Homo sapiens: one gene and its partners. The protein of the gene in region 4 purifies or fractionates together with the protein of the main gene of each other region. This does not show direct contact. Each region holds a gene or a part of one and is shown on either strand. Other genes may lie near its edges.

Region 1 (4,765 bases), on a different chromosome or scaffold from region 4:
ATTATATTTACATCTTTGTGTTGTTAGGAAGATTCAGTGAGCTAATATATGTAAAGAATCAAACATACTAGCTGACGTGTAATAAGCCTTCAATAAATATTAGCAATTATTAGCAAGAATCATCTTGGTTTGGTATTAATCTCAAATTAGCATAAAAAGGCTTTGAGAACTGAACATTTATTCCATTTTAGATGGAATGTGCTATATAGAGAAAAATTACAAGATGAATCTGATTTCTCAAATGTGCTTCATTTGATTTTAAATATATCCCATATCTATATTTTAAGAATGATCCATTTTTATGCCTTTTTATCAGTGTATTATGCAGTGTTTTATTATTGCATGTCATTTCCTGAAATCCTGTGAACCAAAATGTCACTGACAAGCACATACAAAAACACTGCTACCGCCTCACAGAAATCAAACAGAACTTCCATTTTATGACATATTTAAAAACATAATTTATCTTGAAAATGCTAAAAAGTATTTCTGTAGGGAGGAAAGCAATATTCTATAGCCAGTATATGACTTTATATGACTTTCATTAGTGTCGATTTAGGCATTCTACAAGTCTTTTGGACTCTTACGCTTATGCAGACTATAAAATTCAGGTTATAATTAATACAAAAAGACTTAGGAAGAAAAGGAAGTCAAAATGGTTAATATTCAGACTTTGAAGATAGGGATATGAACTCCTTTGCTTGATGATGGTTTAACTCAGATCTTTGGAAACTCCAGTTGGCTGAGCCCTCTCAGGTCCCACCCACTGCCTAACAACAGATGCTCTATTCAGCAAAATATGGGCCTGATTGGTCAGATTCACTCCATTTATTCACTATACTCTTTGTGTTTTCTATGTACTAATGTCCCTCATGAATATGTTCCTTTTTAGTATTATGAAATGAACTAATAGGGAGAAACTAAAATAAGTTACTATAGGCAAGGCATAACAATAAGCAAAATTAATATGCTAAAATCAAAGCCTTTATATATACAATTTGGAAATAAAGAAACAATCTGTTTTACCCAATCATGAATTCAATGAAACTTCAATATTAGAGGATACAAAAACCACACTATCTCACAGAGCTAATGATGTGCCAGATTAGCAATCAGACCCTACACATCTTTATCAAAATAATGGTACTTGATGTATTTATATTAGATTAAAAAAAACCAAGGTGGGAAAGGGGTTGTATTGATCAAGATAATAATTGCTGATTAAAGTGCATTTATTTAAAAATAAAATAAATTGGCATAAAACGATCACTATTTTTTTCAGTTCATTCAAATCCATTATTTGATCATATATTTTAGGGATACAAATATATCACTTATGCATGGAAAAGAGTCGTCGAATACATTTTTCTACTTGAATTTCATAAAACTCATTACACATTGCACAGTTGTTCATTGTAAAACAGCCATAATTAACAATTTCATGATATAGATTTAAAAAAGAAAAAGATGCATCTTACCTCTTCCCATTGATGTATGTATCTAATTAACCTTGAAAGTCGTAATAAACGCAAGAGACTGAGAATTTTTGTAAACCTCACAATGCGAAGTGCCCTGGCTGTCTTGTAAACTTCAGAATCCATTCCTTTTTCTACAATAAGAAAGATATAATCCACTGGGATGGATGAGATGAAGTCAACCACAAACCAGCTTTTTAAATAATTCATCTTGATCACTTTGGGGTCCAGGATGATTTCAGAACTGTCTTCATTGACAGTCCCAGTCCTAAAATTCATGATCAGGTCCAATAGGAAAACTGTATCTGATGCCACATTGAAAATAATCCATGGTGTTGTTGTTTGCTCTGTAAAGAATGTGATTCCAACTGGTATGATGACTAGATTTCCAACCATCATTATAAGCATTATTAAATCCCAGTAAAACCTACAACAAATAAAAAAATCAGATTTTAAGATATAGAAAATAACCAGCCTATCCCCCCCATGAAAAATTATTACTGATATATAGTGAGATCAATAAGTAAAAGAACAAAGAAATGATTTTATTTTTTAAAAATGTAATTCCTTAAATGGCTATATGTTTAAATCTAAGTAAAATTAATATATTCTTAAACCAAGGCATTATGATTATGGAATTCTAAAAATTATGTGATATGAAGCATTATACAAATAAAATCAAAAACATTCATACCCCCATTTATTTAGTAAAGAGGCAAAAAAAGCAACCTACCTTATACTTAATACAAAATATAGACAGAAACTAGAAAGAAGTATAAGATTAGAAGATCTGTAAGAAAGCCTTTGGGAAGGCTCTTTGAAGATGTTTTGAATTATTTTAGATGTCAATTTACCAATCATAGATTAGAAAAAAAAACCCAGAAATAAATAGGATACTCTAACAATTTTAGTTATGCAAATTTATCTCAAGGAATACAGATTAGTTTTGCCATGGAATCTAGAATACACTGGAGTTTTGCAGTACTCCAAATATTTTATGCTTTATTTTTCTTTTGCTTGAAATAAGAAAACTAATTTTGGTCTGATGCTAAAAAGAACTGAGCAAGTTCTACTCCATATTTGAAACTAGAATCTACCTAAAATTTGTGTTTTTATTACTACTCTATTGAACAACTACTTCAAATATATTGCCACTACTTTTCCATAAAAATTCTTTCTTTCTTTCTTTTTTTTTTTTTTTTTTTTGAGACGGAGTTTCATTCTTGTTGCCCAGGTTGGAGTACAATGGCACAATCTCAGCTCACTGAAACCTCCGCCTCCCAAGTTCAAGTGATTCTCCTCCCGCCTCAGCCTCCCGAGTAGCTGGCATTACAGGCGTGCCACCATGCCCAGCTAAAAAAAAATCTTTAACATTTCTAATTTAATTCTGAACATGCCTATGACTACTAAGTACCTTTTGAAATATTCTTATCTCAACTTACATTAAAATTGAGAGAAAACCAGGAACTTCATTGCTGGTTTATATAGCTTAACTAAATTAACTAAATTCACTTGACATAACTATAGTGTTATTTTTATAAGGGTTCTTTCAGTCTGTTGACACTCCTATTAATCAAATATTTATAGTTGTTACAGTATATACTTGCAAAAATGAAAAAATAAACACAACTGTATAATCATGAAATGTATCCAGAAACATGAGTTACTTTATCCTAGTCATAGGTATGTTATTTGAGGAGTTTTGTATAAACAATATAAACTTCCATGATAAAAATGTCTGTTTACCAAGATATTTTTGTTTTACATGAATACTCCTACTTAGACTATTTGAGCTACATTTTGGTGAGGTATACATGTGTATAAAGCTTTCAAAGTTACTATCATCTGTAATTAAGAATGACTCCTGAAATAAAAGTACTAGTTGAAGAAAAAACTATAATAGGCCCTATCTCCCCTGTCTCCAGCCTCAGGATGTTGTAAAGGATAAGCGTTTGTTATTTTGAAGATTTCACCAGTATTTCTGTCAAAACTTGCCTGCAATTTTTGAAACAACTGTACAAATACCCATGTCAGCCATACAACATGTACTGGCAGTTTAAATGAAATGGTTTTATATCTTCTCACAATGGAAATGCAAAATATACCATTCAACACAATAAGGACAGAGGAGAGATGTAGAGGAGGAGCAATATTGTAACAGCTATTTCACAAAGAAATGGCACCACTAAACTCTAAAATGAAACTGTGTGTACCCTGAGGATTTTTCACTTCTGGGCACTCCTATCAAGTCCCTTCTGTAAGCTTCTCTCTCTGCCCTCCCCTTCAAGGCTGTTGTTCCCCTGGGTGTCACACATAGCCCTTTCATCTTCTATTCTACGCATTGCCCTTGAGAAATATTATACACTTATCCATGCCTTTAATAATTAATTTGTAACTGATGACCCCAAAAGCTTTATCTTCAGTCCATTCCTATCTTCTAAGCCTCCTAATCCTCATAATCAGTAGCCCGTTAAATCTCTCTCCTGGCATATCTCACACTCATCTCAAACAGCATGCCTAAGCTCAAACTCATAATCTCCTCTCCCACATATATTCCTCACATATCCCCTATCTCAGGGAATGGAATAACTCTATGTGTGATTTGCAAGCCAGAAACCATGGAGCCATCCTAAATAACTCCTGGCCCTAAATCTGCTCAAACCCATATCCAATTGATCACCAAGGCTGTTTAGTTCTCACACCTAAATGTATGTTGTATTCATCCATTTGCACTTTACTATTCCCACTGCAGCTGTCCTCATTCAGAAAGTCTTACCAGCTGTTTTATTTAAATACAAGCCAATTAAATGATTTTATTTTACATTTTCTAACCTGTTCAAAGAAGATTATTACAGAGCCAAATATACAGGGTTTTATGGATTAAACGAGACGATATATGCTAATCCCAGGGCCTGGCATATAATTGTGGCACACAATGCCAGTGGCCTAGTCACTACCCATTTACCCTTCCTCACTTACCACAAGAAATCCAATTTTGTGGGAAGCACCCAGCAACCTAATGAAAAATACTCATTTCTACAGACATCTTTGCATTTCTGTAATTAAGATAGAAGCTTTTTTTGAAGGAAAACTAATATCCCATCCCTCAGAGCAATAGAGATGAAAAGAAAGCACCATTCATTCTTTACTACAGTAATAATGCTTATCACACTATAGCTTTTTGCTAGCAATACTTAATATGGTCTGAAGCCATTAGATATCTCAATACCAGTAGGAAACTCTGTTAAACCCCATAATATCCTTTTAAAGTAACATCGACTCTATTTTGC
Region 2 (4,765 bases), on a different chromosome or scaffold from region 4:
TCTGCCTGGTAATCTCCATACTCAGTCATCTCAGGAAAATCTCTCATTTCAGGAGGATCAAGTACAAGGAAACCACGTTGAACCAACAGGCCACTTTTCCATGCATGGAGCTCTGGCACCTTTAATTCATGGTGCTTCCCTCCAGAAGAAATCCAGTCCAGCAATGATTCCCTCTGCTCTGGTGGAACAGCCAAGCTGTTCCTGGGGGTCAGCTCACAAGTGGTGTGAAGGTGGATGAGCAAAAGAGAGGAAGAGCCTCTTAGGGCGAGGGAGCCAAAAGTCAGACCTCAAGTTGCCCTGGGAAACATGATGCGATGGCTCTGCTGCCCCAGACCCTGGGCTTTTCCTCCTGGGGTGACGGGCCTGTGCTTCTAGCCCTGTGGCTCACGTGTGTCCCTGTGGACACTCAGGCTACAGTTTCCTCCCACCCAGGTCCAGGTCTAGGTTGACATTTAACAGGGAGGAGGGAGTTTGGGGAATGGAGGATGCCGAGTAAGAATCACGGGTAAGGCCACCTGGGGATCCTCCAAGGGCAAAGCCCTGTCCAGGGCAGAATTCACAGTTTAGGGGGATCCCCAGGTGCACTGAGAGGGGTGATTCTCATCTTCAGGGGGCCAGAGGACCTCTTCCCTTACTCCTGAGCTGAATCCTCCTGTCCCCATTTTACGGCCTTCCTCAGATCTGTCCAGTCCCTCCTGCACCATGCGTGGGGCGTGCTCAGAGCTCCGGGAGGCTGGGAGAGGAGGTGAGAGTGTGTTTGCTTGCATAGGGCGAGGGGGAGCCAACATCCGTGATCACAGAATATGGCACTTGAGATGGACTGGCACCCAGGAGGCCCAGCTGCCAGTCCCAGGAACAAATGTAATGCCCTTGACTGGCTTTTGGAAAAATTGCTGGGGTTGGTCAAGGTTGGGCAGAACTCTAGCCAGGACCTCCCATGGCCCTTCCCAAGATGAGTCCAGGGCTCAAGCAGGATCTCTGGGCTTAAACCAATGTGCACCATTGGCTCTGCAGGGAGGAAAATCAACACCAGCCCTTCCCTCCCCTCCCCTCCCCCAAGACCACCAAAAATGCTCCCTCCCCACAAATCACCCTTCACTGTGCATTCACCTCTGATACTTTTAAGTGAAAACATGAATTAGGCAAACTAATCAATTTGACAACTGTTGGGATCCGGGCTTTCTCACTGTAGTGGAAATGGCTTCTTTACTTGAAGTCTGCTAAGATGTCACTGAAAATATTGAGGAACAGGTGAGCGTGGTGATCCCTGAAGACCAGCGTGGGACGGAAACGAATGGATTTGTCACCACAGCCACCCAACACCACACCTGAAAGAGGCAGGAGGTAGGTGAGGAGCGTGGTTTCTCAAAGTCACATGCTGGGAGAGCTGGGGGGAAAGTGATGCCTGTTGGCAACGCTCATCCATCCATCCATCCATCCATCCATCATCCTCCATCATGGAAGCCCGGGCTTCCTTCCTACCACCCACCCATCCAGTCTTCATTTCCTTTCTCTCTCCCCTCATTCATCTCCTCCATCATTCTCTTCTTCCTTTCCTTCCCTCCACACTTCCTTTTTCCCTTCCTCCCTCCCTCTCTCCTTTGAGTGCCTGCTTTGCTGCCCCAAGCTAGGTCTGGTGATAGAGAAATCCTGAGATAAAGTCCTTGCCTTCCACAAAGTCATGGAGGAGTGGGAAAAGAAAATAGGTAAGCAAATAAGTTGCAAAAGCACAGGCTGAGTCGGAAGCATGTGTGAGGTGCTGAGCTATTACGGAGGAGGGACAGGCTCTGCTTATTTTAAAGGGTGACTTCACAGTTACAGCTGGTGTCCTTTCCTTGTCGAGGTTGTTTATGCCTTTTTTTTTTTTTTTTTTAGAGATGGAGTCTCGCGCTGTCACCCAGGCTGGGGTGCAGTGGCAACCCAGTCTCACTCACTGCAACCTCCACCTCCCAGGTTCAAGCCATTCTCCTGCCTCAGTCTCCCAAGTAGCTGGGATCACAGGTGCCGCCACCACGGCCAGCTAATTTTTGTATTTTCAGTAGAGATGAGGTTTTGCCCCGTTGGCCAGGCTGGTCTCGAACTCCTGACTTCAGCTGATCTGCCCACGTCGGCCTCCCAAAGTGCTGGGATTACAGGCGTGAGCTACTGCACCCGGCCTGTTTATGCCTTTGAGACCACGTTTTCTCATTTTTAAAATGGAGGTTGATTATCCCTGCCCTTCTGAGGCTGCTGCAAGGATTCTGTAAGATGGCACAAGAAGAACTGACAATGTGCCTGACATAGAGTACGTGCTCTGATCTCACCACAGCGTCTGCCCTTACCCCTGCCACACATGTCCTCAGTGGCTTCCCACAGCTCCTAGGATGAAGTCTGGAGTGCTAAGCCTGATCTGCAGGCCCATGCGACCCGGGCCTGGCCTCTCCTCCCCCAGCTTCATCCCCTCCCAACCGTTCGCCTTCACGCCCCCTTCTTTCCCTTTTACCACCTCTGTAAGCTCCATCCCACCTCAGGCCATCGCATGCACCCTTCCCTCCGCCCAGAATGCTCTTCCTTACCTTCTTCACCCAGCCAATCCCTGTTTGTCAAGACTTAGGGTAAAATGCTACTTCCTCAAGGGAGCCTGCCCTGATTTCCTACCCTCACCAACTGCTGCAGCTATCTGCTCTCTTAGCTGCGTTTTCTCCTTCCCAGGACTTAAAATTGCAATGGATTGGTTGTGAAATGCCATGTGTAAAGCCATGCCTTCCTGCTACACTGCATGCTTCCTGAAGGAAGGGGCTCTGATGGTCTTCATCATCACTGTAACTGTCTCCAGTGTCCACTTACAACTCACCTCCTCAGCGAACGCTTGTTGAGTAAATAAATGGATAAAGAAATCCCATTTGTAATGTTCTCTTCTTTGGAGAAAGAGCATTCAGGCTCTTTTCAGACCTGTGTACCACCTGCCCCCCACACAAAATATTGCTGAGTACCTAGCAACATGTGGCAGCTACAGCAGGAGATACTGGATGCTCATGAAACTCAGCAGCCACTCCTGACCCCTTACCTTTGTTTCTGGCAATTAAAATGAGCTTATTCCGTATGGAATCATCGGGAGTATCGAAGGAGCAAAAGGTGCCTCGTCCTCTCACCCTGCTGATGAACTGGGGGTACCGGGCCTGTAGTGGGAGGAGACAAGGCTGGCGTCAAAGCCCATCACCTGTGTACCAGCTGGGCTTAATGGCTGTGCTTCGTCAAAGGCCTCCCATGGTCCAGCCTCGGCCTCTGCATGGACTGGCAGGACCTCCAGGGGGTTAAGAGCTCTGGGGACATTCAGGCCTGGGTTCAAAGCCCAGCTGTGCACATGTGTGTTGTGTGGAGGAAAAAAACCACCACCACCACCACCAGCAACAACAACCAAGCCCAGCTCTGTCCCTCTCACTGTATAACCTTGGGCCACTCAAGTGCCTCTGTTTACCCTGCTATAAACTGAAGGATTTAAATGCTGTTGACCCCACTGGGGCCGTGGTGAGACTTTAGCACGATAAGGTTCACATGTTAAGTCCTAAGCCTGGGGCTGGGCACTTGGTGGATGCTCCACAGATGTTAGCCATCTCCATCGTCAGCTCTTCTAGAAAGGTGGTTCTTCTGGAAGAAGAAATGCCTGTCCTCCCTCAGGGCTTTGAGACTGGGAGCTGTACTGGATTGAATAGTTTCCTCCCACTGCCCCCTAAATTCATGTTTACCTGGAACCTATGACTAGGACCTAATTTGGAAATAAGGTCTTCGCAGAAATAATTAGTTAGGTTAAAATGAAGTCTTCCTGCATTAGAATGGCCCCTAATGCAATGACTGTTTTTTGTTTTTTGTTTTTTTTTTTTGAGATGGAGTCTCACTCTGTTGCCCTGGCTGGAGTGCAGTGGCACTATCTCGGCTCACTGCATCCTCTGCCTCCCAGGTTCAAAGATTCTTGTGCTTCAGCCTCCTAAATACCTGGGATTACAGGCACCTGCCATCACACCTGGCTAACTTTTTTTTGTAGTTTTAGTAGAAACTGGTTTCACAATGTAGGCCAGGCTGGTTTCGAACTCCTGACCTCAAGTGATCCACCTGCCTTGGCCTCCCAAAGTGCTGGGATTACAGGTGTGAGCCACAGCGCCCGGCTCAATGACTGGTATCTTTATAAGAAGAAGACAATCTGGAGACAGACACAGGCACAGTGGGGAGAACACCAAGTGACGCCAGAAGCAGAGTGAAGCCTCCACACGTCAAGGAACATGAAGGATTCCCGGCAGCCACGAGAAGGTGGAGAGGGGCATGGAACAGATTCTCCCCCAGAGCCTCGAGAAGGAGCCAACTCTGCTGAAACCTTGATTTCAGACCCTGGCCTCCAAACTGTGAGAGAATAAATTCTTGTTTTAACCCACACAGTTTGTGGTGATTTTTTACAGCAGACAAGGAAACAAATGCAGGTGCCTAGTCTGGAGGACCTTGATTTCACCTTACTCTCTGCTGTCCATATGAAGGACAGCAAACAAGGGCTTGGAAAACCCCAAATAATTTCAGGGTACTGGGGGCTGAGTTGGGGGAGCAAGTCTTATTTCACGGCAGCTCATTGGTAGAAACTGGAGACATGGTCCTATTCTGGGGGTGACAGAGCCGGGCACCGTGTTAGACACTTATGTGCACAATTTGTTTCTTTTTGTGGAGTATGGGTTCTCACCATGTTGCCCGGGCTGGTCTCAAACTCAGTTGAGCTGAAGGCAATCCTCCTGCTTCTGCCTCC
Region 3 (5,545 bases), on a different chromosome or scaffold from region 4:
TGGCAAAAACAGAAACTGGAGACTACTTGGGGGCAGGGGAGGGGAGAAGGGGGAAGGGTTGAAAAACTAATTATTGAGTACTACGCTCAGTACCTGGGTGACCGGATCATTTGTACCCCAAACCTCAGCTCCCACAATATACCCAGCACAAGTACCAAATCTAAAATAAAATAAAAGTTGAAAAAAAAAAAAGACTTAAACTACACACACACACACAAGTAGCTGGAGAATTCATTTACATCCAAGTAAACACAAATTCTGGCAAGATTATAGAGGATCCAAAAAGAAAGCAGAAGCAAAATGCAATTTCAAATAGCTTTGCAAATAAAATGGAAGGCGTATAGCTTCTTATTAAAAATGAGACTTAATACTTTCAGAATTGTACAGAGTCTTGACCTTAGGACTTAAGAGTGTACTCTGGAACTGATAAGTCTTATGACGGTATAGAGGGCTTAAAACATGAGTTAGTTAACAGTTGCTTTTTAAAAAGTGACTTCTGGGTTGAAAATTAGCTACTGTTAAAAAAAAAAAGATGGCCATCAGCAGGACAGTTATTAAAGAATTAACTATAAAAGACACCTTTCTTGGATCATTTATTCACCCTTTTAATCATTTAACAAATATTTATTAGTGCCTAATATGTGCCAGGTCCAAGGGATAGAATGGCAAATGAGAGCATGAATGCTACTCTCAAGGAGTTTATAATCTATGGAGGAGATAAACAAGTAATTACAAAACAATGTGGTAGTGTTGTTACAGGGGAAGTAGGTGAAGGGTACTATGGCAGTAGGTATAGGGACATCTAGTCCAGTCTAGGGGAAGCTTCTTGGGTGTTCAACTTGAGATCTGAAGGCTTAAAGGGGAGGGATATGAGGAAAAGGCCCAGAAAGAGAAAACACACTGTGTGGAAATCTGGAGGCACCATAGCATGGCCAGGTTAGGGAACTAAAAGAAGTTCAGGAAGTCTAAAGAATAAATTGGAGCCACAGCTGAAGAGAGAAGAGCCAGGGTCCCATCAATAAGGGACCTGAAAAGCCATGTAAAGGAGTTTGAACTTCATCCTGTGCCGTGGTGAGCAAGATTCAATACGTGACCTCTGATTTCAGATTTCATTTCAAATAAACCTTTCAGTTAATACAAAACAGAAAAAATGAGCAGGGAGGGGCGCAGGGGGCAATGGTGGTGTTTCCAAGGTAACCACACCTCTCTAGAGAGGTGCTTTTTATTAAACAAATATTCACTACAACTCTACTATGTGCCTGCAACTGATCTAGATGCTGGTGAATACAGGAGAGAACAAGACAGACAGTATCTTGGACTTCATGGACAGATAACAAACACATGAATATACAAATGAACCATAGTAATAAATGCCAAGAAGATAATAAAACATGGAAATGAGGAAGAAGGCAGCCGAAATGGAAAGCTACTTTGGTTGTGGGCAGGGTGTCAGGTAAAACCTTCCTAAAGCGACATTTTTATTAATACCGAAAGGATGATAAAGTAGCCACATAAATATCTGAACAGAGAACATTCCATGCAAAGGAATCTTTGGGTCTTTCTTCCACATTTGTAAAAACCAGGTTTAACAATTAATTACTGCATATGGATACATGTGTGAAGTGAAAGTCTATGATTATAAGGCATACAAAATTAGAAAGCCACTTCCTTGGTTCAACGTATCAATTATATCCATGCTAAAAATCGTAGAGGCTGCAATGCAAAGCCAATTTTCTACTGACATTCTTATCTTTATTCTAAGTGAAAAGAAAAGCTAATTAAATATTGTTATTTTTCTTAAATTGGTACTAAGGCTAAAAATAATCCTGAGTTGTCACCAAGGGCACTGGGTAGTCTTAGAAAGGTTTTAAGCAGAAGAGTTACATGTCTAGGTTTTTTTACATTAATACATTTGAATACTATGCAGCCAATAAAAACAATACTTATGAAAACTATAGAAAAGGTGGTAAATTTTAAAAATGAAAAACTATTGCATTAGAGCGGTAGGATTATGGATGGCTTTTCCTTCTTTCTTATTTTCTTAAATATTGTAAACAAGTTTTTGAAGAGAAAAGGACAATGCTCCGCTCTACGGAGACGAGTATTAGGATGAAGCAATACAAAAACTGAATCAAAGAACACAAATTTAGTTCACTTTAAGCCCCCAAAGGTAACTGTTTCTGTTATTTGCCGTTTGAGAGAAAGAACAAGCAAAAACAAACACACACACACAAAATCTTTATTGGAAAGATGAGGGGAAGAAGGTCAACAGGCAGTCTGAGCTTCACAAATATTGGCCAACAATTATTTATTGAATGCCTGCATTTGGAAGTGGGGATACAGCTATGAACAAGGCAGGATCTCAAAAAACAAAATCAGAAACACAGACATAAATGATGCCAGTGCTATGATGAATGCTAGGAAGAAACAATAATTAACAATAGATTACATGGTAAAAGCAAGAGGCTAACTAGACGAAACTTCTATTGAGCAGAGACAGTGTCTTACATGTTTTTACGCTCAGAGCTTTATATAATGGTCGATAAATGTTTGTTGACTGTACAAACAAATGAAGGTGGCCAATGGAGAAGAAATGAGGGTCAGAAAAACATCCGGAAAAGGTGGGTAACTAAGCAGAGGATAAAGGACGAGGTGTCAGTGCAAAAACGAAACCTTATACTTTCAAGCATAGGTATTACCTTATACTGATACTTTGAAGCAGCAAATTTCTCCACACCCGGATTCAGGATTTGACATCTAACAGCAAAGCCTGCACTGACGTGTCCTCAGTATCCAGTATTGGCGCGTCGCACACCGCGCGCCCAGAACCACACAGGCTTCCCCAGTCCAGGATCAGTTGGCGCAGCCCGGAAGCTTCGAGGAGCTCCTAGAACCGCCGCCTTAGCTGGCGGCGCCGGCTCTTAGCCTGGAGGTCGGCGGACCGCTTCCAAAAGTGGACCGAAATTCCGGGGATGGATGCCGGGTGGGGACGCGGACGGCCGCAGGCCAGCCTCCTGACAGCCGGGGCTGAGGGAACCGGCCGCAGCAAATCGCACACCCTCTCTGTGTGCCAGAGTGACTGGCGCAGGCCGCGTAAGAGAGGAGCGAGACCCCGGACCAGCCCGCACCGCGGAGGACCGGAGAGGGCGATTCGGTGAAGGGAGGCGGACGGGTGTCGGGGCGGGAGGCGGTGACTCACCTGGGAGGTAATCATGATGCTGGAGTCGATCAGGAAACTCATGGCGAAGTGTAAGGAAGGCTCCTGCCTCCACTTCCCACTCCCGGAGGCCACAGCACGCTGGGGCCACAGGCCCCCTCACACGGTCTGCCTTCTCCCAGGTGCTGCAGCCGGGACTGCGGCTCTCCAGCCCGACGCCGTCAAGCTGCGCCCCAGTCAGCCAATCAGCGGCTACATCCACAGCCCCGCCTCGGGCTCGGGGTGGGTGGGGCGGACGCTAGGCTTCCGCCGCGGAAGCCCCAGGGGCGGGGCTTATTAGGGGCGGTGCTAAAAGCAGCAATGCAAGGTAGCGTTAACGTTTCTGAGGCTGAAGGAGGTAGGGCCTGAGAGCTAAGTGGTAATTCTGTTTTGTAATGATCCTAAGATAATAATGGTAATTATAGTAAGTCGGGCATTGTGTCCTAAATGTTATAACTTTTACTTGACTCGGCAAATATGACTGTACAAAGTGAGGGAAGACTGGAAAGTCAGATGAGATATGAACAAATATAACTAACCAAATACATTTCTGTGACAACAATGAAAAGCACACTGTCTGTAGCAATTTAGTGATAATATTGTACTGCATATCAGTCAGGCCACAGGTGGAGTACTGCACTCCATGTACCACACTTTGAAGAGATTTTACAGGCCGGGCCGGCTCACACCTGTAATCCCAGCACCTGGGGAGACCAAGGCGGGCGGATCACCTGAGGTCGCAAGTTCAAAACCAGCCTGACAAGCATGGAGAAACCCTGTCTCTACTAAAAATACAAAATTAGCCGGGCGTGGTGGTGCATGCCTGTAATCCCAACTACTAGGGAGGCTGAGGCAGGAGAATCGCTTGAACCCGGGAGGGGAGGTTGCGGTGAGCCGAGATCGCGCCATTGCACTCCAGCCTGGGCAACAAGAGCGAAACTCCATCTCAAAAAAAAAAAAAGAAAAGAAAAAAGAAGAGAGAGATTCTACAGAGACATATTGGAGCTCGCTCAAATGTGAGCCACCAGATAAGGGCTGCTGGAAGGAGGCGAAGAAAGATGACTCAGAACATGACATCTGTCTTCATGTGAAAGAATGGGTAGAACTGATGTGGCACTACGAATTATCTGTAGGGCAAAGGACTGGAAGTTAATTGAAGATAGATTTTAATTCAAAACAAGGATCAGTTCTTTAAGAGTCTGAAGAAGGGTTATTTTAGGAAGTAGCTGCCTCTGCCCCCTTCCCACCTGTTGCAGTGGATCAAATATACACTGAATCACTACCTCATTCATTCAACACTCATTTCATGAAGGCTTAACGCATTGCTGTGGGGCTTACTCTGCCGCCGACCTGGGGCCTAGCTAGGCTTTGTAGTCTATATAGTCTCATAGTCCTGCAAACTGGCTCCAGCCCAGGAAATCACCCTGTGTAGGAGTGGCTGCAGTCAAGACGCAGGAAGACAATCCTGAGGGGACCTGACATCCAGCATCTGAGTTCAGACTACTATAGTTTGAATAAGTGACCTGCAGATTCATTACACACAAGGGAACATGTCTTCCTTTTGTTGGATTGAACTCTGTGATACCAAGCAGTCAAAACTACCTGTCAGATGTCCAATCCCTGATCCAGAATTTCAAGGAGCTGTGGAGGCAGCTGTACAATGGGAGTGTCATAAACCAGAGAACTTTGTGTCCAGGCTATGTCTATTAGGTAAGCAGGTAGATTCCCACATAACAGCACCTAACTGACATTCAAGAGTGTGTAGAGTGCAGAGTGCTGAAAGAGACTATCAAGGCAAGCAGTTTACCTTGGTGGCTTACTGGGGTGCACAGTGGGGATCAGAATATCAGTAACGAGGAATAGCAGAGAAAGGTGTGCAATACCTGCTGGCCTAAGGCCTATGCAAAGCTTTGGGTGACACTATTCAGAATTCTCCCTACTGTACCACTTGTGTCCAGGTAAAGGACAGGCCTAGGTGATTCAAGCGACTGCTTTATCCCCTGATTTTGATTGAGGAATGTCTTTAGAAACCTTCGCACAGCATTTAGTATCCAATTGACTCTCCTTTCAAAGCAAGTCTCTTCTGCTGGTGGTGGACTCTGACACTAAAATGGCTTGTCCTCCCATCTCTACCGCTGGTAATATTCTCCCGATCCACTCTAGCTGCTGCCATCCTCTTAGAATAGTGGGATCTTTTGGTTCTGCCTCCATGGACAGTCACACCATCTGGGCTCTGAGTCCCCAGTTTGTGCTTTTTCCAAGGGAGCTTTTCAAAATATGTCATGTTCATAACTAGTAGCCATTGTTTGCCACTCATCCAGAGATTGGCAGCCAGTCCCATAGATGTGC
Region 4 (4,765 bases):
CCTTAATTTGAAAGTACTTTATTTCCAAAAAATGCTAACAGTCATCTGAGCCTTCATCAAGTTGTAATCTTTTTGCTGGTAGGAGGTCTTGCCTCAATGTTGACGGCTGCTGACCGAACAGGGTGTTGGTTGCTGCAGGTTGGCATGGCTGTTTTAGTATCTTTAAACTAAGACCACAATGAAGTTTGCCCATTGATTGACTCCTCCTTTCACAAAATATTTCTCTGTAGCATATGATGCTGTTTGATAGCATTTGACCCAGAGTAGAATTTCCTTCCAAATTGGAGTCAATCCTCTTAAACCTGCTCCTGGTTCATTAAGTAAGTTTATGTAATATTCTAACTCCTTTGCTGTCATTTCAATAATATTCATAGCATCTTCATCAGGAGTAAATTCCATCTCAAAAAACTACTTTGTTCATCCATAAGAAGCAACACCTCATCATTCAGGCTTGATAATGAAATTGCAGCAATTCAGTCACATCTTCAGGTTCCACTTTTTAGTTCTCTTGCTCTTTCCACCGTATCTGTAGCTACTTCCTCCACTAAAGTCTTGAAATCCTCAGTCATCTATGAGGGTTAGAATCAACTTCTTTCAAACTCCTGTTAATGTTGATATTTTGACATTTTTTCCCATGAATCATGAATGTTCTTAATAGCATCTAGAATGGTGAATCTTTTCCAGAAGGTTTTCAGTTTACTTTGTCCACCCAGATCTATCAGAGGAATTACTCTATGGCAGCTATAGCCTTACAAAATATATTTCTTAAATAATAAGATTTAAACGTTGAAATTACTCCTTTTTCCATGGGCTGCAGAATAAATACTGTGTTAGCAGACATGAAAATATTAATCTCCCTGTACATCTCTATCAGAGCTTTTGGGTGACCCAGGTGCATCGTCATTGAGTAGTAATATTTTGAAAGGATCTTTTAGCAGTAAGTCCCAACAATGGGCTTAAAATATTCCGTAACCCATACTTTCAACAGATGTGCTGTCATCTAGGCTTTTTTCTATTCATAGAGAGGCTGAATAGACTTAATATAATTCTTAAGGGCCCTAGGATTTTTGGAATGGTAAAGAACATTGGCTTTCTCTTAAAATCATTGTCTGCATTAGTCCCTAACAAGAGAATCAGCCTGTCCTTTTAAGCTTTGAAGCCAGGCATTGACTGACTTCTCTATAGCTATGAAAGTCCTAGATTATATCTTCTTACAATAGAAGTCTATGTTGTCTTTATTGAAAATCTGTTGTTTGGTTTGGCTGCTTTCTTTTTTCTTATTTTTATTTTTTTGAGATGGAGTTTCACTCTTGTTGCACAGGCTGGAGTGCAATGGCACAATCCCCGTTCACTGCAACTTCTGTCTCCTTGGTAAGCCATTCTCCTGCCTCAGCCTCCTGAATAGCTGGGATTACAGGCCTGCGCCACCACACCCAGCTAATTTTGTATTTTTAGTAGAGATTGGGTTTCACCATGTTAGCCAGGCTGTTCTCGAACTCCTGACCTCAGGTGATCCACCCGCCTCAGCCTCCCAAAGTGCTGAACTTACAGGCGTGAGCAACCATGCCTGACCAGTGTAGCTACTTTCATTAATTTTGTTGGCTAGATTTTTAGGATGACTTGCTGTAGCTTCTGCATCAGCACTTACTGGTTCACCTTATACTTTTATGTTACGGAGACAGTTTCTTTCATTAAACCTCAACAACCAACCCCATCTAGTTTCAAACTTTTCTTCTACAGCTTCCTTCTCTCTCTCAATCTTAATAGACTTGAAGTGAGAGAGAGGGCCTTGCTCTGGATTAGGCTTTGGCTTAAGGGAATGCTCTGCTGGTTTGATCTTCTATCCAGGTCACTAAAACTTTCTCCTCCATATCAGCAATAAGACTGCTTTGCTTTCTTATCTATCATTTGTGTGTTTGTGTTCACTGGAGTGGCACTTTTAATATCCTTCAAGAACTTTTTCTTTTCTTTGCATTCGCAACTCAGCTAACTGGAACAGAAGGCCTAGCTTTTGACCTGTCTCAGCTTTTGGCATGCTTTCTTAACTAAGCTTAATCATTTCTAGCTTTTGATTTAAGTGAGAAAGGGGACTCTTTTACTTGAACAGTTAGAGGCCATTGCAGGGTTATTAACTGGCCTAATTTCCATATGGTTGTGTCTTGAAATAGGCCCAAGGAGAGGGATAGAGACAAGGAAATGGCTGGTTGGTGGAGCAGTCAGAACACACACAATGTTTGTCGATTATTTCACCATCTTATATGGGTGTGATTTGTGGTGCCCGAAAGAAATTACAATAGTAACATAATAGGTCACTGATGAGAGATCACCATAACAGATGTAATTAATAATAATGACAAATTGTGAAATATTACAAGAATTACCAAAATGTGAAACAAAGTGAGTACATACTGTTAGAAAAAATGGAACCAATAGACTTGTTTAATGCAGGGTTGCCACAAACCTTCAATTTGTAAAAAGAACAGTATCTGTAAAATGCTAAAAAAAAAAAAAAAAAAAAATAGGCAAAGCACAGTAAAACAAGGTATGTCTATGTAAGAAACTGGGTGAAATTATAAGAAAGGTATCTGATTTGCATAGAGCATATAATTGTCGTATATAGAAAGAAAAACTCTTCAAATTCCTGTTGATTCAATTGTGAACAGTATAATTTTTTCACATTATTAAATTACTCTTTTAGCCTGTGACTACCTTACAATTGAATTTGATAATTGGGCTTTGTAATGCATCTTATTATAGGCTAGTTATATTGCATACCATGAGAATAGAAACATATGTTGAAAGGAGACAAATTAGAATAGACAAAAATTATTACCTATTAAAAAGAAGAAAATGATCTCTTTTCCTAAAAAATTTATCTGATGTTATATGAATCTCATTGAGTTTACAAACTGTAGGTATTTTATCATAGGTACTTTATAACTTGGAGACCAATTTATTTTTTGTTTTTTTGTTTTGATGTATTACACAAAGATTTCCTGTTTTTTTCCAGGTAGGTGGTTAGAAAAAAATTATTAGTAGTTTGCTTTAGAGAAGGAAATAGCCTTACCTAATTGGCTTTAAGGTAAGAATCATTTTCATTAGTAAGATGGAGTTTGACAGATCTGGCTTTGCAGGAGAAAAATATGTATTTTAGACACTTTAGTGAATATTTTAGCAATCCTACTTTTTTTTTTTTTTTTTGAGACAGAGTCTCGCTCTGTCGTTAGGCTGGAATGCAGTGGCATGATCTCGGCTCACTGCAACCGCCTCCCGGGTTCGAGTCTTTCTGCCTCAGCCTCCCGAGTAGCTGGGACTACAGGCACATGCCACCACGCCCAGCTGATTTTTGTATTTTTAGTAGAGAAGCGGTTTCACCATGTTGGCCAGGATGATCTCTATCTCTTGACCTTGTGATCCGCCCGCCTCGGCCTCCCAAAGTGCTGGGATTACAGGCATGAGCCACCGCACCTTGCCTACTTTCTTCTTTATAAAAGAATAAGACTTGAGTAAGCAGTAGGTCATTATACTTTATTGGGTAATTTCCATGAGGCATTTGCTGGAGTCCTTATAACTGGTTTTTGTGTAAGCTGTCTTGGTTTTTTAACAATGTGCTGTATCAAATTGATAAGCTTCATAAAGTCTGTATCATAATCTCAACATATGATAGAAAAGCCAGTGCATTGTGGTTTATAATCTCTGAATTTTCTTTCTAAATCTACTAGAATTATACTAACCTTAGAAAGTTCATCTATATTTCACCTCTTTCCTGATTGTAGAGGTAATTATCTCTCAGCTATCACATGTTGTTGAAAATTAAATGATTTAACTTTTCCAGGTACTTCTATAAAATCAGAACTATTAACACTTCAAAGGTCTTATTAATAAGTGCAAGTTTTCTTCAATTATTTTTGTTATACTGATGCCTTTTCCAGCAATTGTTTCTCAATTTGCAGGGGTATAGAGAGTTAAAAATAACTTTTGTTTGCTCTGAAAAACATCTTTTTAATATATTCTAACATTTTAATTTGGCTTTATATTACAGAAACAAATTGCAACCCAAGTCTACTAAGCATAATTGGCTACAATACAACAAGCACTGTCCCAAAGGAAGGGCAGTCAGTCCAGTGGTGGCATGCTCAAGGAATTATAGGACTAATTCTCTTTTTGTTGTGTGTATTTTATTCCAGGTAGGAAAAACTATGGAATTTTTTTCTTTAAACAAGAAGTCTAGCTGTTTATTTATGAATCATTTCTTTTAAAAATGTTCTTTTTTTTCTCTCCTCCTAAACTCTCTTTCATACAGCATCCGTACTTCAAACAATAGTCAGGTTAATAAACTGACTCTAACAAGTGATGAATCTACATTAATAGAAGATGGTGGAGCTAGAAGTGATGGATCACTGGAGGATGGGGACGATGTTCACCGAGCTGTAGATAATGAAAGGGATGGTGTCACTTACAGTTATTCCTTCTTTCACTTCATGCTTTTCCTGGCTTCACTTTATATCATGATGACCCTTACCAACTGGTACAGGTATTTATATTTCATGAAAACTCTGGATGTGTGAATTCTGATGGCATTTTATGATTCTCTTGTGAAACCATGATGTGATATGAAGTACTTTTTATCCTCTGATATATTTCAAAATGTACAGCTAAATGAATAGTGAGATCAGCATGAGAAATGCAGTCTTTACTTCCTTGCTTTAACAGTAACACAAACATTGAAATAGTTCCAAATCTTGGAGAGATTAAAATAAAAATT
Region 5 (4,591 bases), about 35 Mb from region 4:
AGAAACGTTGAGAGGGGTTAGATTGAAGGACTAAAAACACGGAGGTGGAAAGGAGGCAAATCAATGTCTTCTCCCTACAAAGAAGAGTGAAGAGATGGGGAGAGGCTGTGGATGACAGACTAGGAGCAGAGGTTGAGAACGGTCACCTACTTAGGAGTATGCAAGAATGTACAAACTTTCAGTCCTCCTACCATCACTCTTGATTTTGTAATGGTGTACTCCTCCATGTGACTAGAGCAATCACTCCTTCTCAGGCCACACCCAGGGCTTCAGGTCCCACCTGCAGCCTCCTGGCCCCAGGGTACAGTCTGGCACAGAAGCCACAGGGATTCTGGGAGACGCAATTTCATTCTCATATCCTGATGAGTGGCCTTTGGTGTAAACACAGTTTTTCAACTTTTACTTTTTTTCCCCAAGAGCACAACTGGTAATTTTTTTTTTTTTTTTGAGACAGGGTCTCATTCTGTTGCCTAGGCTGGAGTGCAGTGGCATGATCTCTTCTCAGTGCAACCTCTGCCTCCCAGGTTCAAGTCATTTTCCTGCCTCAGCCTCCTGAGTAGCTGGGATTACAGGCACGTGCCACCATGCCTGGCTAATTTTTGCCCTTTTAGCAGAAATGGGGCTTCACCATGTTGGCCAGCTTGGTCTCGAACTCCTGACCTCAGGTGATGCACCTGCCTTGGCCTCCCGAAGTGCTGGGATTACAGGCGTGAGCCACCACGCCCGGCTGCAACTGGTAATTTAATGAGTAATAGTCTCCAATGAAGTTCTTCAGATAATATATTCTGTCATTTGATCACTGCACCTCATTAAGCTTCTTAAAAAGTTTCCCAAATTTGACATGTACTCCTACCTTTGTCCTGCTACAGTGAAAGTGTATATGGGTGGCTTAGCTGGGATAGATTTTAGAATTGGAGGAGGCCCAATGTGTCTGTCAGGTAATATTGCAACACACTGACCAAAGTAGATTTAGATGACTTGTTATTTGCTTTATGTTTTATATTCATAGTAAAAGACATAGAAAAGTGCCAGTGCATTTATTCCAGGTATTTCCATTTTAGAAAAAGAGGAAGTTTATTTAATCATGAACTAAAAAGGACAAGCCAGCTGTACTATTTTTACCTGAAATGAATAGGCTATGTAGTCACAGTGCTACAGCAAACGACTTTAGCTCAGGTCTGCAAGCAGTAGATGACAGCACATCACTTTCTTTTAATTCTTTATGTAGTCATGCAATTCCCACTGGAATATGTACGCAGATAGAGCCATAATCTCAGATTTAATGCCATGGAGGGCATTATCAGGTATTTAATTTATAAGTAATAAGAAATTCTGCAAATAAAGATATTTTTGGCATTCTTTAATTGCAGGGTAACTGAAATGGCTAAAAAAAAAAAACCCATAAAAGGTATTTAGTATTTCATCTTATTATTACTTCTACAAAATTTCTGTTTTTGTATGATAATGTTTATTTGAAATTATGTATCACAGATAAGACCAGAGGTAGAAAACAGCACGCCAAATAACAATCCTCAAACAAAACAGAACAAAACAAACAAACAAACAAGGAAACAAGACCACACATACTTACAAACTCTCCTGAACCAAGTATGTTCAAGAATTAATAAGTTGCACCCCTTACCCCCATCCACTCATGAGGCTCTGGAAAAAGTCGTGCCTTTTAGCTTTTTACAGTCTAAGTATGCTCTCGGCATCTAATGAGCTTTTTAAAAGCCAGCTTAAAGTCTTCATTAAAACTCGTATAGAGCAGAGGGTTGATCAGAGAATTCACATAACCGAGCCACGTCAGAAAGTCGGCCACTTCCGAGGACACGGTGTAGATGCTCAGACCCACAATCAACTCTTTGATGAAAAATGGCAGCCAGGATAAAATGAATGCACCCAGAATCAGCCCCAGGATGCGTGCTGCCTTCCGTTCCCTGGTGCTAGAGATCTGCTGACGTTCTCCTGGGTGATCTAGATCATTGTCGAAGGGGGGGATCCTGATGGAGGCATGGAACTTTTCAAACTCTGTGGTAGGGTCTGAGGTGGAGAAGTCAGACACACAGAAAGTCTGTGTAAGTTTACAACTTGCAAAAGAATTCTGGCTATCTGTGCTTCTGTTGCTTAAGTGCCGACTTGATCCCCTTTTCTGGTAAAGGCTCTTGGCCGCGTGGTAAATCCGGTAATAGAGAATCAGTATCAAAGTCAAGGGGATATAAAACGCACCCAGCGTGGAGTAAATGGTGTAGATAACATGGTCGTGCTGGATGGTGCACTGACTAGGGGGAGGGCTTAGGCGGCGGTGGCTTCTCCAGAACAGAGGGGGCATGGAGATGAAAATGGAGATGGTCCAGACGGTAAGGATCATCAGCGCGGCCCTCTTGGCCGTCCTCTTCCTGGCGTATTCAATAGCATTGGTGATGGCCCAGTACCTGTCCAGGGCAATGACACAGAGGTGGAGGATGGAGCAGGTGCAGCAGGTCATGTCCACACTCAGCCACACCTCACAGAGGAAGTACCCAAGCTTCCAGCGATCCATGACAATGTAGATGATGCTCAGGGGCATGACGAGCACTGCCACCAGGAGGTCCGTCACGGCCAGAGAACAGATTAGGTAGTTGGCAGGCTGGTGGAGCTTCTTGGTGGTGCCAATAGCCATGATCACAGCCAAGTTCAGCAACGTGGTGAGGGTGGTGATGACCACCAGAGTCATGCAAATGAGCATCTTCTCAGTGATGGTCTTGGGTCTTATAGCCATGCTGGCCTCTGTGGTACAGTTTGTGATGTTCATGTTTCCCTTGTTTCAGTCTACACTGTGGAGAAGCTGTTGGTTATTTTCCTTTGGCTGAAAACTATGTAGCCTCGAAGGTTTCTCACTTGTAAGGAGGCTATAATTTGTTCAGCTATGTGGTCTCTTGTGTTCCATTTTCTGTTGGTAAAGGGAAGGGCCACAGCATTTCTTCTGAGTGAAGGTTCCTGGAAAATATTATGCTATTGGTTAATGAATGAGAAAGCCACACTTTTCCTGGAAAACATGAAAATAGTTTGATATTTATAAATTCTTTATAAATTTTAATTTTCTCTTTCCTGTGGAACTTGAGCTCATCGTTACATTGTTCCTCAAAGGATACTTTTTTTACTTCAGGGAAGTTTTCAAACTGTTTTTTTTTAAATTATACTTTAAGTTCTGGGATACATGTGCAGAACTTGCAGGTTTGCTACATAGGTATACATGTGCCATGGTGGTTTGCTGCACCCAACAACCAATCATCTACATTAGGTACTTCTCCTAATGCCATCCCTCCCCTAGCCCTCCACCCCCCAACAGGCCCTGGTGTGTCATGTTCCCGGCCCTGTGCCCATGTGTTCTCATTGTTCAACTCCCACTCGTGAGTGAGAGCATGTGGTGTTTGGTTTTCTGTTCCTGTGTTAGTTTGTTGAGAATATGGTTTCCAACTCATCCATGTCCCTGCAAAGGACATGAACTCATCCTTTTTTATGGCTGCATAGTATTCCATGATGTATATGTGCCACATTTTCTTTATCCAGTCTATCACTGATGGGCATTTGGGTTGGTTCCAAGTCTTTGCTATTGTGAATAGTGCTGCAATAAACATACATGTCCATGTGTCTTTAGAGTAGAATAATTTAAAATCCTTTGGGTATATACCCAGTAATAGGATTGCTGAGTCAAATGTTATTTCTGGTTCTGGAACCTTGAGGAATCGCCATACTGTCTTCCACAATGGTTGATCTAATTTACACTCCCACCAACAGTGTAAAAGCATTCCTATTTCTTCACATCCTTTCCAGCATCTGTTGCTTCCTGCCTTATTATTATTATTATTATTATTATTATTATTATTATTATACTTTAAGTTCTAGGGTACAGGTGCACAACATGCAGGTTTGTTACATATGTATACATGTGCCGTGTTGGTTTGCTGCATCCTTTAACTCGTCATTTACATTAGGTATTTCTCCTAATGCTATCACTCCCCCGTCCCCCGACCCCACGACAGGCCCGGGTGTGTGGTGTTCCCTGCCCTGTGTCCAGGTGTTCTCATTGTTCAATTCCCACCTATGAGTGAGAACATGTGGTGTCTGGTTTTCTGTCCTTGCGATAGTTTGCTCAGAATGATGGCTTTTTAATGATCACCATTCTAACTGGCGTGAAATGGTATCTCATTGTGGTTTTGATTTGCATTTCTCTAATGACAGTGATGATGAGCTTTTTTTCATATGTTTGTTGGTTGCATAAATGTTTTCTTTTGAGAAGTGGCTGTTCATATCCTTCGCCCACTTTTTGATGGGGTTGTTTGTTTTTTTCCTATAAATTTGTTCAAATCGTTTTTGACAAAAACATCACAAAATTTTAAATGTACTTTGCCACCCCAATTAATTTCTTATTTATATTTATTCTTTTATACATGTTTATATATAAAAAGGCTTTTTTTTACATTTGAAAATATATATTCATATTATGTAACATTAAACATTCTGGGGCCGTTAAAGAAAAAATTATATTGCTTATAATAAGCAGCTTTCAAATCAGATTTTAAACTTTCACAGTAAATATGCTGGCGTG
Region 6 (4,463 bases), on a different chromosome or scaffold from region 4:
CCATGCCCAGCTAATTTTTTTGTATTTTTTTTAGTAGAGACGGGGTTTCACTGTGTTAGTCAGGATGGTCTTGATCTCCTGACCTCGTGATCCGCCCACCTCGGCCTCCCAAAGTGCTGGGATTACAGGCATGTGCCACCACGCCCGGCCTCAATCTGGTTTTAACACTTCAACAGATGTATGTAGTTTTTGTATCACCATAGCACCTAAAAAGTACCCCCAAAGTTAAATATACTGTCATCTCTGTGTGTGTGTCTGTAGTCAGTGCCAGGTTTGTATGTGAATTTGAGGACCTTCCCTAGTCCCCTTGTCCCCCAGGCATCTCCTGCTCATAGGTTTGGAAATGACTGATAGAGGCTTCATCTCTAGTCCAAGAAATGCTGGACGGTGTATCCATCCTACTGTTCCATCTCTCTCTGGTCCTGGAGCTTAATGTTTATGAAATTGTTCTGAAAAGGCAAAGAATGAGTCAACTTCCCTAGAAAAACTCCCCAATGATCTGCTTTTCTAAATTAAAATCCTTCATGAGCCTGTTTTTATTTTCAGCCTAATAAATCTCTCTAGGTAGTAAGTTGCATAAGTTTACTATGCCAGTGGTATTTTCTTGCATTTGTCCAAAACTGTCCTTCAGATATTACATGTTGCTCTCTGTTTCAGTATTCCAGCATTTAATGACCAGTTTTCCAAACCCATTAACCATTACACCCTGCAGTCAGTCTATTGGCAGATACTACCCAAAACTGTCAGAGAAGATAACAGTGTGGGGCCTTGGATCCAGACAAACCTGGGCTTACATTTCCATACTGACACTCATTAACCTTGCAAGCGTGGGCAAGTTCTTCACCCCTTCTGAGTCTGTTCTTTATCTGCCCACCTGTCTCAAAGAGTACCTGGGAAGTACAAAAGAGGTAACTCATGAAGCCCTCAGGCTTGGAACGTACCAAGTCCTTGGTAGATATGGCTCCTCCCTGCTTCCCTCTTTAAATCACTTGTTTGTTCAAGAATTTAACTGAATGTTCTTATTTGTATTAGTAGGTGGCAAGTGGGAGAAACCATCAGAAATTTTGGAAATCAAAGGACAGAACTGGGAAGAACAAGTGAATAGTCTGCCTGAAGTTTTCAGAAAAGCTGGTTTTGTTATCGAAGCTTTCACCAGACTACCATACCTGTGTGAAGGCGACATGTATAATGACTACTACGTTCTGGATGACGCTGTCTTTGTTCTCAAACCAGTATAAACACGTGGAGGTCGAAGTCTTCAGAGTCCGCACCCTCCGGGATGTGCCCTTGGAAGAGGGTCTGTGTTCACAATTACGTGAAGGGAGGACCCTTGGGGACCGCCATTCTAAATATCATGTAGGAATTTAAAAAGCCAAAATACTAATTATTTCTTTGTAGTGTGTAAAGGAATGTTTTTAAAAGACAAAAACCCAACTCTTTGTGGATTTTTATCAACTCTTTACTCAGAGCCACTCTCCAATGCAGGTCACACTCCAATTATGATGGAAGATATTTTTTATACTTAATTGCAGTAGGGACTCATTCCCAGACAAAGCAATAGTCACGACTTCATGGAACCAATCAATGGATTGTTTTTTGAAGACTGGCAATAAAGCTGTCCATTCAATTCCAAATACTGGTTTTAAGGTATAGCCACTGATATTCTTTCATGTTTAGAAATTCTTTCTGTTATTATTCAAGAAAATGTTTTTAATCATGCTAATAAACTTTTTTGGAGATGACTTTGGCATCATGTTTGAATTCATATAAAGCTCCCCTAGCATTTTTTATTGGTTTGGCTTCAGGAGTACCCAAATAGTAGCATTATGAGAATGACGCAGACAATTTGAATAGGGGGGAAGGAAGGCTTCAGACTTGGGGGAAGGGGAGATTATTGCAAATTGCAGTGAACACTGAGTCAGTAAAAAAAAAAAACAGAAACAAAAACCCAGCCTCATTCAGATACAGAACTTCAGGGACCCCTCCCCCCACCCCCCCAGTTAATGCTGCTGTGAAAAATGCAAAATAACCTGGTTCTGACTTTGTGATCACTCATGTCCCATACACTGAACTTTGTTTTTTTCTGGACAATCTCAGGTTCTCAGAATTGAAACATTCAGTTTTGTCTACTGACAAAATGCAACTAAAAATGTTTTAATTCAACTTCTTACTCTACACTTATATACCTCTCTCCCAGAGCTTGGCTCTTCCCTGAAATCCTTAAAGGAGTTTATTATTTGCCAAGAATATGGTTTGATGAAGACCGTGTCAGACTCATGCATTCTGGAATCCGTGAGTGCCTCCAACCATAAACCCAGAAATGCTGCCATAGAGGAACCCATTAGCAAGATCAATAACCATCGTGGATATTCCAAAGAGCAGAGCATTTAACCCAGAATCTGAAATCTCAGTAATAACAGAAATGTCAATATGAGATTGTGGTTATTAACAATATGTTATCCTCACTACTTTATTTCTTTTTTCATCCAGGTGTTTCATTAAGTATTCTCATTTATATGCTCATAGAAGTCATCAGATCAACACATTCACTCCAACACCTGGGTATAAAGGCGAATTAAAACCTGAAGAATTACTTTATTATTCATTAAGAACTGCATTCCCACATCCTCACACCAATATCTTCCACTGTTACTGTGCAGTCATAATAAGAGTTGGGTTATGTGATTTATGCAAAATTGTTATTGGTGTGTTCTAATGATTTTTTTCCAGGAATTCAAGTAAGTGAAGTACAAATACTTAGCACCATAGATTGTAAAAATAGAAAGAGGAAATGAGAAAACTTAATGTCGTTCTTGTACAGTTGAGTTTTGCTTCTTTATAAACTGTCTGTTAAAATCAGGGGTTGCTGTTAGACTGTCAAGCAGAAGTGATGGATGTTCAAGGAGGCAGGTTGCCCCAAAGTGTTTTCTAACTTTCAAGTAGAGAACTTTATGCTCTAATAAGAAAAATACAACTCATTCTTAACCACCCCCCCAAAACAGAGAAAACACATACATTTATGCATTTTAAAGATAAAAAGTAGTTTCTCAAAAAAATCTGAAGTTCTCTGAAAACCAGCTTATTAAAAGTGCTGTTTTGTGGTGAAAATTGAAACCAAATCCACTCACATTTCCTATCGGGTCTTGAAATTCTTGGTGGTGTGTCACCATTCCACTAGATGGCAGTGTTGCTTACTGAGTGTCAATGGCTTTTTTCCCCGTAAATGGAATCATGTTTTTCTCCCCCAAAGTACAATAAAGCTGCCTTGTCTGCACCATTCCTCGTGTAAGTGCTTCATATCAAGTTAAGACTGTACTAGAGAAATTAAGAAGAGCTTTATTTGTGGTAAAAGCAAGCTAACCAATTGACCTTAAAGGTTGAAATGCAAGCCACACCTCTGATTCCTAGCTCCCTGCACCTGCATTTTAAGCTCCTAAAGTGCTCAGACCACTGATCTCAGAGAAGGGGAGGAAAGGAGGTACAGTGCCCTTAGTCATTTATCCCTTGTACAGAGTAGTTAAAAGCAGTACTGTATTTTCTGCCATCCAGTGTGACCTGTCATCAGTTTTTACATGGTTGGCTTTTAACAGAAAAAAGTTGAGTTGGAAAATAAAGTGTAGATGTTTCAAGTCTTCCTGAGCAAAGCTTTGTTTTCACTTGGTTCTGAGTATAGTATTAATAGGCTATACTGCGTATGTTATTTACAGTATTAATGAAGCAAGATGTTTTCATTAATTGCTTCCCACTACTTGGTTACTGATGGAGGTGTTACATGATCCTTTTTCTCCAGCAATGTCAGTATAGTATCATGGGCTTCCAGTGACTAAAGTGACCTACCATGTTAGTGCAGATGCTTAAGCACCCCCAGTTACCTTATATCCAGTGCTTCCGCCGGCTAGAAGATAGTGCATGGAATCAGGGCAGCCTGGACTGAGTTGTACTGTCTAGGAGTGCACTGAGCACAAAACTGGGCTCATAAGTAACTTGAGACAAATCAGGACTATGTTGCCTAGGCTGGTCTTAAACTCCTGGCCTCAAGTGATCCTTCTACCTTGGCCTCCCAAAGTGTTGGGACTGCAGGTGTTAGCCACTGTCCCTGGCCTAGCACTCCCTTTATCTTGCAAAACTGAAACTATGTTCATAAACACAACTCTCCATTGTCTCCACCCCACCCTCTAGCAACTATCATTCTACTTTCTGTCCCTTTGACTACTCTAGGTAGTCATGATCCGCCCCATGATCCAGTCACCTCCCATATAATTGGAATTACACAGTATTTGCCTTTTTGTGACCGGCTTATTCTTCTTTTTTTTTTTTTCCTGAGACAGAGTCTCACTCTGTTGCCCAGGCTGGAGTGCAGTGATGCAATCTCAGCTCACTTCAACCTTTGCCTCCTGGGTTCAATCAATCCTGCCTTAGCCTCCTGAGTAGCTAGGATTACAGGCGTGCACCACCACTCCTGG

The links.
Region 1: the proteins of SERINC1 (region 4) and HCN1 purify together in Homo sapiens (co-immunoprecipitation; one large-scale study listed by IntAct). This does not show direct contact.
Region 2: the proteins of SERINC1 (region 4) and ABAT purify together in Homo sapiens (affinity purification with mass spectrometry; one large-scale study listed by BioGRID and IntAct). This does not show direct contact.
Region 3: the proteins of SERINC1 (region 4) and GPR89B purify together in Homo sapiens (affinity purification with mass spectrometry, with the first as the bait; one large-scale study listed by BioGRID). This does not show direct contact.
Region 5: the proteins of SERINC1 (region 4) and HTR1E purify together in Homo sapiens (co-immunoprecipitation; one large-scale study listed by IntAct). This does not show direct contact.
Region 6: the proteins of SERINC1 (region 4) and METTL9 purify together in Homo sapiens (affinity purification with mass spectrometry, with the first as the bait; one large-scale study listed by BioGRID). This does not show direct contact.

The regions. Positions count from the first base shown.
Region 1 is NC_000005.10:45,643,707-45,648,471, forward strand, and holds part of HCN1 (potassium/sodium hyperpolarization-activated cyclic nucleotide-gated channel 1), read right to left. Parts: intron 1,903-4,765; coding exon 1,479-1,902; intron 1-1,478. UniProt on the Homo sapiens protein: Hyperpolarization-activated ion channel that are permeable to sodium and potassium ions. Displays lower selectivity for K(+) over Na(+) ions.
Region 2 is NC_000016.10:8,777,872-8,782,636, reverse strand, and holds part of ABAT (4-aminobutyrate aminotransferase, mitochondrial isoform 1 precursor), read right to left. Parts: intron 3,159-4,765; coding exon 3,047-3,158; intron 1,388-3,046; coding exon of another isoform or gene 1,329-1,387; coding exon 1,207-1,328; 3' UTR 1-1,206. UniProt on the Homo sapiens protein: Catalyzes the conversion of gamma-aminobutyrate and L-beta-aminoisobutyrate to succinate semialdehyde and methylmalonate semialdehyde, respectively. Can also convert delta-aminovalerate and beta-alanine.
Region 3 is NC_000001.11:147,926,233-147,931,777, reverse strand, and holds the start of GPR89B (Golgi pH regulator B), read right to left. Parts: upstream 3,359-5,545; 5' UTR 3,242-3,358; coding exon 3,200-3,241; intron 2,989-3,199; exon of another isoform or gene 2,700-2,988; intron 1-2,699. UniProt on the Homo sapiens protein: Voltage-gated channel that enables the transfer of anions such as iodide, chloride, bromide and fluoride which may function in counter-ion conductance and participates in Golgi acidification.
Region 4 is NC_000006.12:122,446,543-122,451,307, reverse strand, and holds part of SERINC1 (serine incorporator 1), read left to right. Parts: intron 1-4,042; coding exon 4,043-4,187; intron 4,188-4,303; coding exon 4,304-4,534; intron 4,535-4,765.
Region 5 is NC_000006.12:87,013,538-87,018,128, reverse strand, and holds the end of HTR1E (5-hydroxytryptamine receptor 1E), read right to left. Parts: intron 2,980-4,591; 5' UTR 2,795-2,979; coding exon 1,697-2,794; 3' UTR 1,450-1,696; downstream 1-1,449. UniProt on the Homo sapiens protein: G-protein coupled receptor for 5-hydroxytryptamine (serotonin). Also functions as a receptor for various alkaloids and psychoactive substances.
Region 6 is NC_000016.10:21,654,195-21,658,657, forward strand, and holds the end of METTL9 (protein-L-histidine N-pros-methyltransferase isoform 1 precursor), read left to right. Parts: intron 1-1,032; coding exon 1,033-1,238; 3' UTR 1,239-3,277; downstream 3,278-4,463. UniProt on the Homo sapiens protein: Protein-histidine N-methyltransferase that specifically catalyzes 1-methylhistidine (pros-methylhistidine) methylation of target proteins.